Regions from separate parts of the Homo sapiens genome. Here all the other regions are reported to be linked to region 2. The links are microRNA targets in miRTarBase. Many come from high-throughput screens and were not tested one by one. Region 2 holds a microRNA gene; each other region holds the end of a gene's coding sequence.

The links. The annotated mature microRNA hsa-miR-6750-3p reads GAACUCACCCUCUGCUCCCAG and lies in region 2 at 1,327-1,347, shown strand. An mRNA with a match to its seed (bases 2 to 7 or 8) in the 3' UTR can be bound and repressed. Matches are read on the target gene's strand: a 7mer-m8 pairs with bases 2 to 8, a 7mer-A1 pairs with bases 2 to 7 and ends in A, and an 8mer does both.
Region 1: miRTarBase lists PHAF1 as a target of hsa-miR-6750-3p. Seed matches in the 3' UTR shown: 7mer-m8 at 1,746-1,752.
Region 3: miRTarBase lists WARS1 as a target of hsa-miR-6750-3p. Seed matches in the 3' UTR shown: 7mer-m8 at 558-564.

The regions. Positions count from the first base shown.
Region 1 is chr16:67,146,420-67,150,537 of GRCh38, forward strand. It overlaps PHAF1 (phagophore assembly factor 1), which reads left to right. Exons shown (of 16, transcript NM_025187.5): 16 at 626-2,125. The coding sequence ends at 712. B3GNT9 (UDP-GlcNAc:betaGal beta-1,3-N-acetylglucosaminyltransferase 9) reads right to left here. Exons shown (of 2, transcript NM_033309.3): 2 at 1,685-4,118. The coding sequence starts at 4,066. The coding sequence ends at 2,858. Among named protein-coding and RNA genes, the nearest start is that of B3GNT9, 2.5 kb to the right of the region's middle. RefSeq lists a silencer at 3,935-4,118.
Region 2 is chr11:64,895,429-64,899,709 of GRCh38, reverse strand. MIR6750 (microRNA 6750) reads left to right here and starts at 1,273; the gene lies at 1,273-1,347. It overlaps ATG2A (autophagy related 2A), which reads left to right. Exons shown (of 41, transcript NM_015104.3): 32 at 868-1,074; 33 at 1,348-1,449; 34 at 1,540-1,624; 35 at 1,736-1,871; 36 at 1,967-2,039; 37 at 2,216-2,298; 38 at 2,841-2,962; 39 at 3,094-3,248; 40 at 4,268-4,281.
Region 3 is chr14:100,331,155-100,335,272 of GRCh38, reverse strand. WARS1 (tryptophanyl-tRNA synthetase 1) reads left to right here. Exons shown (of 11, transcript NM_004184.4): 11 at 237-1,483. The coding sequence ends at 398. Among named protein-coding and RNA genes, the nearest start is that of SLC25A47, 9.9 kb to the right of the region's middle. RefSeq lists an enhancer at 2,277-2,326.

The DNA of each region.
Region 1 (4,118 bases), not on the chromosome of region 2:
TGGAGGGAAATTGGGGAGGGCATCACTGCCATAGTGGGCAGATTCATCCTTCTTCAGCAACCGTGTCTGCTGCATACCTGGCCTCCCCACACTTAACAATGAAGGTTCAGAAATGATGTTGAGAAATCTGGGGTCACAGAGGCCGAAGCAGTGGTCTGTGTCCAACAAGATGGGAGGTAACGGATCCCAAGTTTCTATCTGACAACATGATTATAGCAGGGAAGGGAACCACAGGGCAAGTGGGGCCCAGCAGAGGGTGTTGGGGGCCCTCCAGTGGCATGTGAACAAATGCATTGTAGGGGAGTGAGTGGCTCTGGAGGCCCTGCTGACTTGGGAGAACAGCAAGCTGCCCTTGTTTTCCCTGTGGATGCAGTATCTCCAGCAGACACTTAACAGTTCCAGAAGGACTGGACACGTGGCCATGGTAAAGGCTGTGTGTAACCATTGAGAAACAGGCAGATCTCAGGCAGAGGGGGGCCTTTAGCATGAACCAGGGGAGGTTGAGGAGTCGGGAAACCCAGCCATTAGGTGCAGGTATGTCACACAACCTCCAGCCCTCATGCACAGGATCTGCCTACATCCCTTTACCTCTCCCCCTTGACCCACTGTCCTCTTCTCACACCAGGTCATGCAGAACAACCACATTGCCTCGGTGACCCTGTATGGCCCCCCCAGGCCTGGTAGCCACCTGAGAACAGCGGAACTCCCCTAGGGACACCACCACCCATGCCCCTCTGTCCCGTGGAACTGTGCATCACATCCTGCTCAGTGGGCCTCTGTACCACCCTGTGGGTTTTCTTGGACACCTGGCCAGTGCTGAAGGGCTGTTGTGATGTTCTGAGGTTGGGCTCAGGCTGGGTGCTCTGCCATGGGCTGAGTGGCCCAGATATTCTTCTGTCCATCTTTGGCCTGCTGGTGCCAGCAGGGGACACAGACTGCAAAGAGAAGCACAAAGTTTGAGCCTTGATTCCTGGACCCAGGAGCTCTCAACTAACAAGGAGGCAGGAGAGGTCAACCCTTGTCCCATGCACATTGGGAAGACTTGGGGCTCTTTCTGTGACTGAGGACACAGGCACCCAGGATAAGGACAAGGTCCTGCCTTTGGCTCCACATTGCCACATGACCCTTAAGGCAAGCAGGTAGCGTGTCCATAGTACTTGGTTGCGACATTTGCACTACATCCACTTTAGTTACTTGATGAGCTGGCTGTGGCCAGGGTGGCCCACCTGCCCTTCCCTGTTCCTTTCTTGCACGCGCTCCCTGCCTGGGCACACCAAACTGGTTGAAACACAGCTTTCTACCATCCAGGTACATGCCCAGGCCTGGTTCTCACCCCTGTTGGAGTCAGCTTTCAAGATTGCCTGTGCCCCTGCTCTGCCCCATCCTGGCTGGCAGGGCTGCATGTTTCCATCCTGTTTGCCTCTTTTATTTAATGCCAAAGTTTTAGCCAAAGACATCTTCCTACTTTTGTTGTGTTTCAGCATTCTGTTCTGCACTGTGGGCTGGCTCTCTGCCCCAACCCTGGGCACTGGCCCCTGGCTGGGCCATTTCATGGCTCAAAGCCTCTGGGGGCTCAAGGAAGGCTGGGCTGCTCAGTCCCTTCATGGGTCTTGCTAATGGAAAGTAGCATATATGTGCTTTAAAAATATTAATCCTTTTGAAAAGAACTGAGAAGAAAAATGTATAATTTTATCCCATTTTTAATATTTTGGTCTAGCAACTTGTGATACATAGATGACAATTTTGTGAGTTTTTCAAATGTGTGTACAGATTTTTGTAAATATGACTCTTTTGTAATTAACTCATGTACAGCCTCATCCTGTATAGTTTAATGATGAATGTGCAGGGGACCTGTCTCAGGCTCCTATATGGTTCCTGGGCCTTATAGCCAGGTTTGTGTGGCGCTCCCGACTTTTGTGACTGACTGGTGTCTTCCCATTTGGACTGTGGCCTGGCCAGAGCCCCTTGCATATCCCCACTGTCAGGGGCAGCCAGGACTGTTCCCATCCTCCTGGAATGGGGGAACCTTCCTTATCCCCTGCCCACATCCCCTCTCCAATAAAGCACCTGTGCCCTCAGCAATGGCCTGCCATGTGCTGTTGCTGGGATGTTTGTATTAAGGTAAGTGTGGGTATTGGTTTTTTGAGCAAGGGGGTGGTTGAAGCATATGGGGAAATTAATAGTGGTGGCATCTCAGGGGAAGACATTCCTTGGCTCCTCTGAGGGGATACAGCCTCCAGTGGGAGACTGGCATTGTTGTGTGAGTTCAGGAGGTGAGGAAAGACTAGGTAGGACCGTGCACTCATTTGTCCCTTATGTGTGGCTCCATCCCTGGTGCTCAGCCACACCTGGGCCCAGGAGAGGTTGTGGGAAGCATAATATCTGTTTTCAGATGAGCTATGGCAAAGTGCCTGCCAGGTTCATGAATTCAGGCTGTGGCGGCCGGAGCCCCTCCACCTCCCTGTGGGGCCTGGCCTTGAGAGCCTCTGCATACGTCCGCGTCAGCCTAGGGGGTTCCAAATCCAGCAGAGTGGTAGGATTCCCTAAGTCCCTGCCACCACACCAGAACACACCTCTGTGCTACTAGGAGGACCAGACATATCCACTGCTCTGGGACCTGTTGGACAAGAGATGGTCATCTACCACCCAGCCTTGGCTCGCTCAAAGGGTCACCATTACACGGGTTTCAACTGGTTCCAGCAGGGTGGACCGCCAGGAGCCAAGCTTAACCCCCATCCCCTGGGATCCTGTGGAGACAGGCACCTGGTGATCAGGGAAGAACCACATACACGGCAATAATCTGGGAAACCGGCTCCATTCTGGGTCTGAGTTAGGAGCTTGGGGCTGTAGTGGGGAGCTAGGAGTCCCATTGGAAGGGGCCTGCAGCGACAGGCTGTGGATGCGCACAGGCTGGCCCATGCGGCCCGTGCAGCAGGCGCCACATAAGCCAGATGTCAGCGGCCGAGAGCCCGTGCACTACAACCAGCTCACGGTAAAAGCAGGGGTCGAAGGTGCTCAAATGCGGCGCGGCTGAAGGCTGGGGGATGCCAAAGGTGCGGAAGGCAGGGTGAGGCTCGGGCGTGAGCCGCAGGCGCTGCAGACACATGCCCAGAAAGACGTCGTCGATGGGGAAGAGCTCGACCTGCGCACAGGCGCCAGCCAGGCGGTGCAGCGTGGCCCCGGAAAGCACAAAGCCACCGCCGCCCGCGTAGGCCGGATAGGCGGGCAGGCCGTACACGGCCTCGGGGATGTAGTACTTGCTAGCCCGCGTGCGGATGGGCCGCGCATGCACAATTACGTCACCAGCAAGCAGGTCTTGCGCCGGGTCCCGCGGCGCCAGGAACTCCAGGAGATTTCCCACGTTCACGAACACATCTGCGTCGCCCTTAAAAACGAAGCGCACGTCGGGGCAGAAAGCTGAGGCCCAGGCTAGAAAGTGGATCTCCTTGAGCGTTAGGTTAAAAAAGGTGTCGTCGAAGGCCCAGAGCAGGATGTCCGCATACGCAAGGCTCTCGGCCCGCAGCAGGGCGCGCCAGTGGGTTCGCGCGCCCTCCCCAACTTCGTCGGCCCCGCCCGAGCCTGCGCCCCTGGGCACGCCCAGCAAGAACACGCGGCGCACCAGCGCCCCCTGCACGCGACCCTCCGCGCCCCACGTCTGGCGCACGGCTTGGCGCCGCTCGAAGTCCTCTGCCACCGACTTGACAGCAATAAGCAGGTCCGGGCGGCCACCGGGTGCGCCGTCGCCGCGGCACTTGTGCGGCTGGTTAATGAGCAGTGGAAACCGCCGCTGGTCCTTGGCGCGCAAATAGCGGGCGAAGTCAAAGGGTCCCGTAGGCGTGGGCGGCGCCGGTGTGTCCCCTTCGTAGGCCGGCGGGGCTGCACCCGCGTCGGGTAACTGGAACGCGCGGGGTCCGGGGGTGGGCCTCGGTGCCGCCCTCCCTCGCCCTCGCGGCGCGCTCGCCGTCGGGGCCGCGCCGTCGCGCTGCGCATAGAGTAAGAGGCCCAGGGAGGCGCCAAGGAGCAGCGTGAGCAATGCGTCCCTGCGTAGGCGCAGCCTCCTCCTCATCTCCGCGCGGCCTGCGCCCTCCCTCCCCTGTAAGGGTCGCAGTCGGCAGCAG
Region 2 (4,281 bases):
GGGAGGGCTAGTGAGCAGGTTCAGGAGAGCCTAGATGGGGGCTGGCCACAGGTTCAGCTGCGGATGGGGTGTGTGAGATACAGAGAGTGGTACAGAGGGTTCAAGGTTTGGGCCTGGGAAATTGCCTGGGGCAGGGGGGTCCCACTTGCTCAGAGTGAGCCAGGCCAGTGCTGGGCTTCCCAAGGAGCCGCTAGAGGCAAAGGGCAGAGGGGCCTCAGGCTGCTCGGGTTGGTGGGCTGTGCTGCAAGAACCTGCGGGAGATGAGTGTCAGAGCAGGGGGCCAGGGGCCTCTCTGAGACCTGATGGCCAGCCAGCGGGTGTGCAGGAAGAGGGGGAAGGAAGGCTCTCCACGGAGAGGGGCTACGAGAGCAAAGTCCTGAAGGCAAAACAGGCCTGGACTCCTTGAGGGGCAGAGACCAGTGCAGCTGGCATGGGAAGCAAGAGCAGGGTCAGGTCTGGAGGGAGAGGCAGGTCCCTGCTGGGCATAGAATAGAGAAGGGGTAGGGGCCGGGCATGGTGGCTCATGCCTGTAGTCCCAGCACTTTGGGAGGACGAGGCAGGCAGATCACTTGAGGCCAGGAGTTCGAGACCAGCCTGGCCAACGTTGTGAAACCCTGTCTCTACTAAAATTAGCTGGGTGTGGTGGCACATGCCTGCAATCCCAGCTACTGGGGAAGCTGAGGCAGGAGAATCGCTTGAACCCGAGAGGCAGAGGTTGCAGTGAGCCGAGATCACGCCACTGCACTCCAACCTGGGCGACAGAGTGAGACTCTGTCTCAAAAAAAGAATAGAGAAGGGGTCTGGGGCCAGCCCTTCCCTCCCTCTTGGGGCCCTGCTTACCTGGCCAGGCCTCTGTCCACCCCACAGGTAAGCTTCCAGCACGAGGTGTACCCAGCGGAGCCAGCCACAGGCCCTGCGGCCCCCAGCCAGGAGCTGGAGGAGCGACCGCTGTCCCGTCAGGTGTTCATCGTGCAGGAGCTGGAGGTCCGAGACCGGCTCGCCTCCTCCCAGATCAACAAGTTCCTGTACCTACACACGAGTGAGCGGATGCCGCGACGTGCCCACTCTAACATGGTATGAGCGACCTGCACCATCCACCCTGGGGCAGGGCACCAGACCGTTGGGGATACATCTTCACGCATGCATGGATTCACACACATACACGCATTCCCACACAAACACCCAGGTTGTTTGTGAGCCTGGGAGAAGGGCAGAGCTAGGGGCTGTGTTAGCGAAGGGAACAGCGTGTTCAGAGGCAGGGTGGCTGGGTGAGCTGTCAGGGAACAGCTGGGTGAGCTGCTGCCCCAGAGGCCCAGCAGGTGTCCAGAACTCACCCTCTGCTCCCAGCTCACCATCAAAGCGCTGCATGTGGCCCCCACTACCAACCTGGGTGGGCCTGAGTGCTGTCTCCGCGTCTCGCTGATGCCCCTGCGGCTCAATGTGGACCAGGTGAGTGGTCTACGTGAGGGCAGAGCCTAGGGTGACCCCACTGTCTCCAGGCCTCTGAGTCTGATCCACATCTGGACCTCTCCCTTGCAGGATGCCCTCTTCTTCCTCAAGGACTTCTTCACTAGTCTGGTGGCCGGCATCAACCCCGTGGTCCCAGGGGAGACCTCCGCTGAGGGTGAGAGGCTGGGCCAGGGAGGGGAGCGTCTGGGCCTTCTGCCTCCCAGGACAGCACAGGTTCCCAGTCATTCCTGGCCCCATCCCCAGTCTGTGACCTCCCCTCCCCTAGCTCGCCCCGAGACTCGAGCCCAGCCCAGCAGCCCCCTGGAAGGGCAGGCCGAAGGCGTAGAGACCACTGGTTCGCAGGAGGCCCCAGGAGGTGGACACAGCCCCTCCCCTCCTGACCAGCAGCCCATCTACTTCAGGTAGGCTGCTGGACTGCGGGTGGGGGGCCCTGGGCCAGATTGCTGGGGGCCAGGCCAGTGAGCAAAGAACCCCCTCTTCCTGCTCCCCTACCCAGAGAGTTCCGCTTCACGTCTGAGGTCCCCATCTGGCTGGATTACCATGGCAAGCACGTCACGATGGACCAGGTGGTAAGTGGGGCGGTCGGATGGGGTGGCCATGTGGGGTCAGCTGTGGCTGAGTCCCTCTGGGGGCCAGGTCTTGCATCCAGGCACTGTTAGCAGCCAGGGCGCTCTCCAGTGGCTCCCATGGGCTAGCTAGCTCCCTGAGTCCCATTGGGTAAACCTGGACCCCCTCCCTCTCCCAGGGCACTTTTGCTGGCCTCCTCATCGGCCTGGCCCAACTCAACTGCTCCGAGCTGAAGCTAAAGCGGCTCTGTTGCAGGCACGGGTGAGTCCCCAGCACCCCAGCCTCTCTCCAGGGTCCCTGATCTTCCTTCTGTTCTGGTCCTGACTGGTTGTGTGGCCTTGGCCAAGTCATCACCCTTCTCAGGGCCTCAGTTTCTCCTCTGTAAAAAGGACGCAGTTGGCTGGGCATGATGGCTCACACATTCAGGCATTCGAGACCAGCCTGACCAACATGGTGAAACCCCCCCGTCTCTACTAAAAATACAAAAATTAGCCAGGCGTGGTGGCATACACATGTAATCCCAGCTACTCAGGAGGCTGAGGCAGGAGAACTGCTTGAACCTGGGAGGCGGTTGCAGTGAGCCAAGATCGCACCACTTCACTCCAGCCTGGGCAACGGAGCAAGACTCCATCTAAAAAAAAAAAAAAAGGACACAGTCCCTCTGCACATGACTGGGTGGGACCACAGGGAGGGTAGAGTGCCCACAGTACTTGCCACAGGGGTACTGAGTCCTCCTGACCCCACAATCCCTCCATGTGTGGCTCTGCCTCACCTTCTGCCTCCTCACCTCCCTGCCCTGCCAGGCTCCTGGGTGTGGACAAGGTGCTGGGCTATGCCCTCAACGAGTGGCTGCAGGACATCCGCAAGAACCAGCTGCCCGGCCTGCTGGGAGGCGTGGGCCCCATGCACTCGGTTGTCCAGCTCTGTGAGTGTCTAGGTTTGGAAGCCCTCGAAACTGCTTTTACCCTTGGGCAACCTAGAAGCTGCCATTGGGAATAAGAGGAGGAGGTGGGGGCAGGGCAGCCTCGGGTGTCTCTGAGCGCTCCTTCCCCCTAGTCCAAGGGTTCCGGGACCTGCTGTGGCTGCCCATTGAGCAGTACAGGAAGGATGGCCGCCTCATGCGGGGGCTGCAGCGAGGGGCTGCCTCCTTTGGCTCATCCACAGCCTCTGCCGCCCTGGAACTCAGCAACCGGTTGGTACAGGCTATCCAGGTGAGTGGGTGCCCTGTATCTGGGCTGTGCAGGACAGAGCAGCTGGAGCCCTCTGCACCACAGCTCCCTGGTTCTGTCCTCAAAGCTCCTCAGAGTGGGCAGTCTGGGTATGACAGCCCTACTTTATAGAGAAACAGCCACGGAGAGGCTAAGTGACTTGCCTGGGACCTCCAAGCCAGGTCTCCCGAGGCCCACAGGGGCTCCCATGCAGGAGCGGGAGTGCCCCCCAGGCCTTCAGAGCCCACTGTGTCTCCTGCTCATGGCATGTCTTGTAAAGGGGGGTGGAGGACGGCTGTGTTTGCAGACTAAGAATCTGAGGCGCAGAGGCTGCCCTGGTTCATTCAGGCCATACGCTTCGCTAGGCCAGAAGGACCCCAGGGAAGCTGGGGAGCCAGTCTCGTGGGCAGTTGTCAGATGAATTCTGTAGGGGATCGATGGTCCTAGGCGGCTAAGGGGTGAGTGCAGGTGCATGGTGCATTCTGGAACCTGCAAGCTCAGACCCCAACAGGACAGAGGGCAGGGCTCCAGGGGAGGTGGGAGGGATGCATGGGCACCAGGGAGCCCCCGGGAGTGTTCAGTCAGGTGGGAAAGAGTGATGCCAGGTGAGATGCTGGGCAGAGGATCTGGCAGACAGAAGGAAGGATGGGCCTCTGACCATCTGGCAGGGGCGTCTGGGGGGCCAGGCAAGGAGCGGTCAGTCTCAGGCGTGCAGCTGCGGCAGCCATGTGGAACCTGCTGAATGTGGTGGTCAGCAGGAAGAGAGGTTTGGGTTGAGAAGACTTTAGGAAAGTCCCCTGAGGAGTCCCACGTTCCTAGGTTCCCTCAGCAGAGTGGCAGGTGCCTAGGAAGGGGAGGAAGAGTGGGAGGAAGTGGGGAGTGAGGCTGAGCAGGACCCCCTAGGCCAGCACAGTGACAGGCAGGGAGGCTGAGGGCTGGTGGGGTCTCAGACTGTCCTGGGGGCCTGGGGCTGACGTGTGCCCCAGCCAGCTGTCCTCATCCAGTGCTCCCATGTCCCCCAGGCCACAGCTGAGAC
Region 3 (4,118 bases), not on the chromosome of region 2:
TTTCACTGTGAGAGGCCAAGTCATGGCTATCGTCAGAGCCAGGTTTCTAGCCGTTTTAGGAAAAGTGTAGCTGAAGGTATAGGTTATTGTTGTGGTAACAACAGATCTCACTTCTGAGTGCCACCCACGTGCCAGGCTCTGCATGGGTGGTGTGGGCTGAGCTGGTGCCCGAGGCAGGAAGGAGCCACTCAGGACATGTGGAGCCATCTCTCACGTGGCTGTCTCCCTCCGGGCAGGATTACACCAGCGGAGCCATGCTCACCGGTGAGCTCAAGAAGGCACTCATAGAGGTTCTGCAGCCCTTGATCGCAGAGCACCAGGCCCGGCGCAAGGAGGTCACGGATGAGATAGTGAAAGAGTTCATGACTCCCCGGAAGCTGTCCTTCGACTTTCAGTAGCACTCGTTTTACATATGCTTATAAAAGAAGTGATGTATCAGTAATGTATCAATAATCCCAGCCCAGTCAAAGCACCGCCACCTGTAGGCTTCTGTCTCATGGTAATTACTGGGCCTGGCCTCTGTAAGCCTGTGTATGTTATCAATACTGTTTCTTCCTGTGAGTTCCATTATTTCTATCTCTTATGGGCAAAGCATTGTGGGTAATTGGTGCTGGCTAACATTGCATGGTCGGATAGAGAAGTCCAGCTGTGAGTCTCTCCCCAAAGCAGCCCCACAGTGGAGCCTTTGGCTGGAAGTCCATGGGCCACCCTGTTCTTGTCCATGGAGGACTCCGAGGGTTCCAAGTATACTCTTAAGACCCACTCTGTTTAAAAATATATATTCTATGTATGCGTATATGGAATTGAAATGTCATTATTGTAACCTAGAAAGTGCTTTGAAATATTGATGTGGGGAGGTTTATTGAGCACAAGATGTATTTCAGCCCATGCCCCCTCCCAAAAAGAAATTGATAAGTAAAAGCTTCGTTATACATTTGACTAAGAAATCACCCAGCTTTAAAGCTGCTTTTAACAATGAAGATTGAACAGAGTTCAGCAATTTTGATTAAATTAAGACTTGGGGGTGAAACTTTCCAGTTTACTGAACTCCAGACCATGCATGTAGTCCACTCCAGAAATCATGCTCGCTTCCCTTGGCACACCAGTGTTCTCCTGCCAAATGACCCTAGACCCTCTGTCCTGCAGAGTCAGGGTGGCTTTTCCCCTGACTGTGTCCGATGCCAAGGAGTCCTGGCCTCCGCAGATGCTTCATTTTGACCCTTGGCTGCAGTGGAAGTCAGCACAGAGCAGTGCCCTGGCTGTGTCCCTGGACGGGTGGACTTAGCTAGGGAGAAAGTCGAGGCAGCAGCCCTCGAGGCCCTCACAGATGTCTAGGCAGGCCTCATTTCATCACGCAGCATGTGCAGGCCTGGAAGAGCAAAGCCAAATCTCAGGGAAGTCCTTGGTTGATGTATCTGGGTCTCCTCTGGAGCACTCTGCCCTCCTGTCACCCAGTAGAGTAAATAAACTTCCTTGGCTCCTGCTCTTGTCATTGTGCTCTGTCTGGGAGGTCTGAGGAGGGAGCAGAGACCCCTCCCCTCACCCTTCTGTGGATGACCTTGAGTCTGCTGGAGTCAAAATTTGGGGATGAAAGCGCACAGTCCCAGGAACCCCATGGTGTTGTGCCACAGCTCCCAGGAATGGGCTTGTGCTGGGAGAGCCCTTAGCAGCATCCTGGTGCGGGCTCCCTCTCACACCACATTTCTCATTTCCAGCAGCTGATGGAGAATGCAAGCAGAGGTTGTCCTCGCTTTTCAGAGGAGGGGCTGGCCGTGGGGTGCTTAGTGGTGCTGTGTAGTGACGGGGAGCACAGGCTGGGAGCCAGGTCGGGCCCCATTCACATGAGGCCCAGGGCAGAGGCCGAGCTGCAAGGGAGCCCTGGGCTCATTCTACCGGCCCATCCTTATTTTGCAAGTAGGGAAACTGAGGCTTAGGAGAGGAGAACATGACTTGTCCAAGGCCATAGGGTGACTCTGATACAGCGAGTCTGTCCTGACTCTTGGTGCTTTCCACACACATACAGAGGGACCATTTTACAAATGAGGGAACTACGGTTCCCACCCTGGAGGCTGGAGGCCTGGGCTCGAGTCCCACTCAGGTACCCGGGTGCACCATGACCTCAAGTAGGCTTCCTCTCCCGGTCTCGACTCCTGCTGGCCTGGGCCCCACCCCTGCCCTCCCCTGCTCACCTGGCTGGCTATGGCCAGTGGGGGTGAGCCACCCACAGAGGCCACATAGCTCACTAGCCTGTTGCCTTGGGCAACTAATATGACTCCTCGTCGCTCTACTGCACCTGTGACGCAAGTGCAATGAGGGGTGACAAATGGAGTCAGTGACAGCTGCTGCTGTCATTGTCCACCCAGCCACAGCATCTATTGGCAGGGCCCTGGTGAGACCCTGGCCCCAGGGAGGAGTGAGCCAACACCAACCAGCTTCTCCCCTCACCGGCTGTGTGACTCTGGCCAGGTCACTTAACCTCCCAGGACCTCCATCTCCTCCCCTGTAAAAAGCAGTGATGCCTCCTGTTTAGGGTCTTAGGAGGGGTGCCCTGGGTCCAATACTCAGGTGACTTGCCCAAGGCCACTGCTGGTCAGGACACAGGGGAGCCACATGTCTCCCAAGCCTCCCCAGTTTTGCTAAAAACCAGTGGTTTCTGAGAGAAATGTTCCCTGAAAGACATGGGCGTGTCTGGATTAGGATGGACAGGTTGCAGTGGCCCCATGAGTGTTTGGGGATGAGGCATGAGGCCGGGTGCCTGCACCACCGTGGTGCCAGAGGCTCTGCCGGAAGAGCACTCCTGCTCTGGCTGGTAATGTCCACTTGTCAGACAGATGTGGGGCCAACCCAGCTCAGTCTCTCTGTCCCGTGGCCCCCAGCCTGGAGGAGAGACCAGCTGAGCCTGCCTGAAAGGAGATGGTGCCTGAGAAGCACACAAAACAGCACTGGGTGGGGAAGCAGGGACAGGAAGGAGGGTGGCTGAGCACACGGGTGGCTGTGGAACAGCTCGTTGCTCCAGGACGGCACTTGGCAAGCAACAGGCCTGCCTCTGGCCCCCAGTGCCCGCCTGCAGCACCAGCAGATGTGCCCTCCCCAGGGTCACACTGGCTGGGCCTTGAGGCCCAGGACTCTCTGGTCATTACCATAGAGGTTGTAAAGACAGTGAGGACAGCCAGACGCGGTGGCTTACACCTGTAATCCCAGGCTGAGGCGGGCAGATCACGAGGTCAGGAGATCGAGACCATCCTGGCTAACACGGTAAAACCCCATCTCTACTAAAAATACAAAAAGAAATTAGCCAGGCGTGGTGGTGGGCACCCGTAGTCCCAGCTACTCGGGAGGCTGAGACAGGAGAATGGCGTGAACACAGGAGACAGAGCTTGCAGTGAGCCAAGCCGAGATCGCGCCACTGCACTCCAGCCTGGGCGACAGAGCGAGACTCCGTCTCAAAAAAAAAAAAAAAACAGTGAGGACAGAGGCCTTTCCTGCAAACCCCCTCCCCAGTGACACGCAGAGCCAGCTGCTCAGTGACACGGGCTCAGGGAGAGCCAAAGGCCCCCACCTCCCAGAGTGCAGCCACTGCCAGAGCCGGGCCAGGAGTGCTGCCAGGAACCCTCCTGCCAAGGCCGAACAGGTGGGGTCTTCTCGACAAAAACGGTCCCGGGGTCAGTGTTTGATGAGCCATGGAAACCTGTCAGCGCCTGCCCTTTCCCGGCATTCGGCCACAACATCTCAGCCTCTGCAACTCCTAAGCTGGACACACTTCCTGGAATCTACTGCAGGACTTATTCATTCATTCATTCATTCATTCACTCGCTCATTCATCCCACACCCCCTACTATGCAGCAGCCCTGGAGCTAGATGGAGTCCTTGCACAGCCCGCAGGCTCTTGTGGCCGGGGAGAGGCAGATGAGTGACCACACACCCAACCAGGTCCCCAAGGGAGCAGAGCAAGAGATGCTTGGGAGCAGCCCAGTGGTCAGGCAAGGAGAGCTTCCTGGAGGAGGTGGCGCCTGGGGTGTGGAGCCAGCCAGGCAGAGCAGTAGGAGGGTATTCCTGGCAGAGGGCACAGGGCATAAGGTCAGGTGCCCACAGCACCACACATATGGGGACTGGCGTAA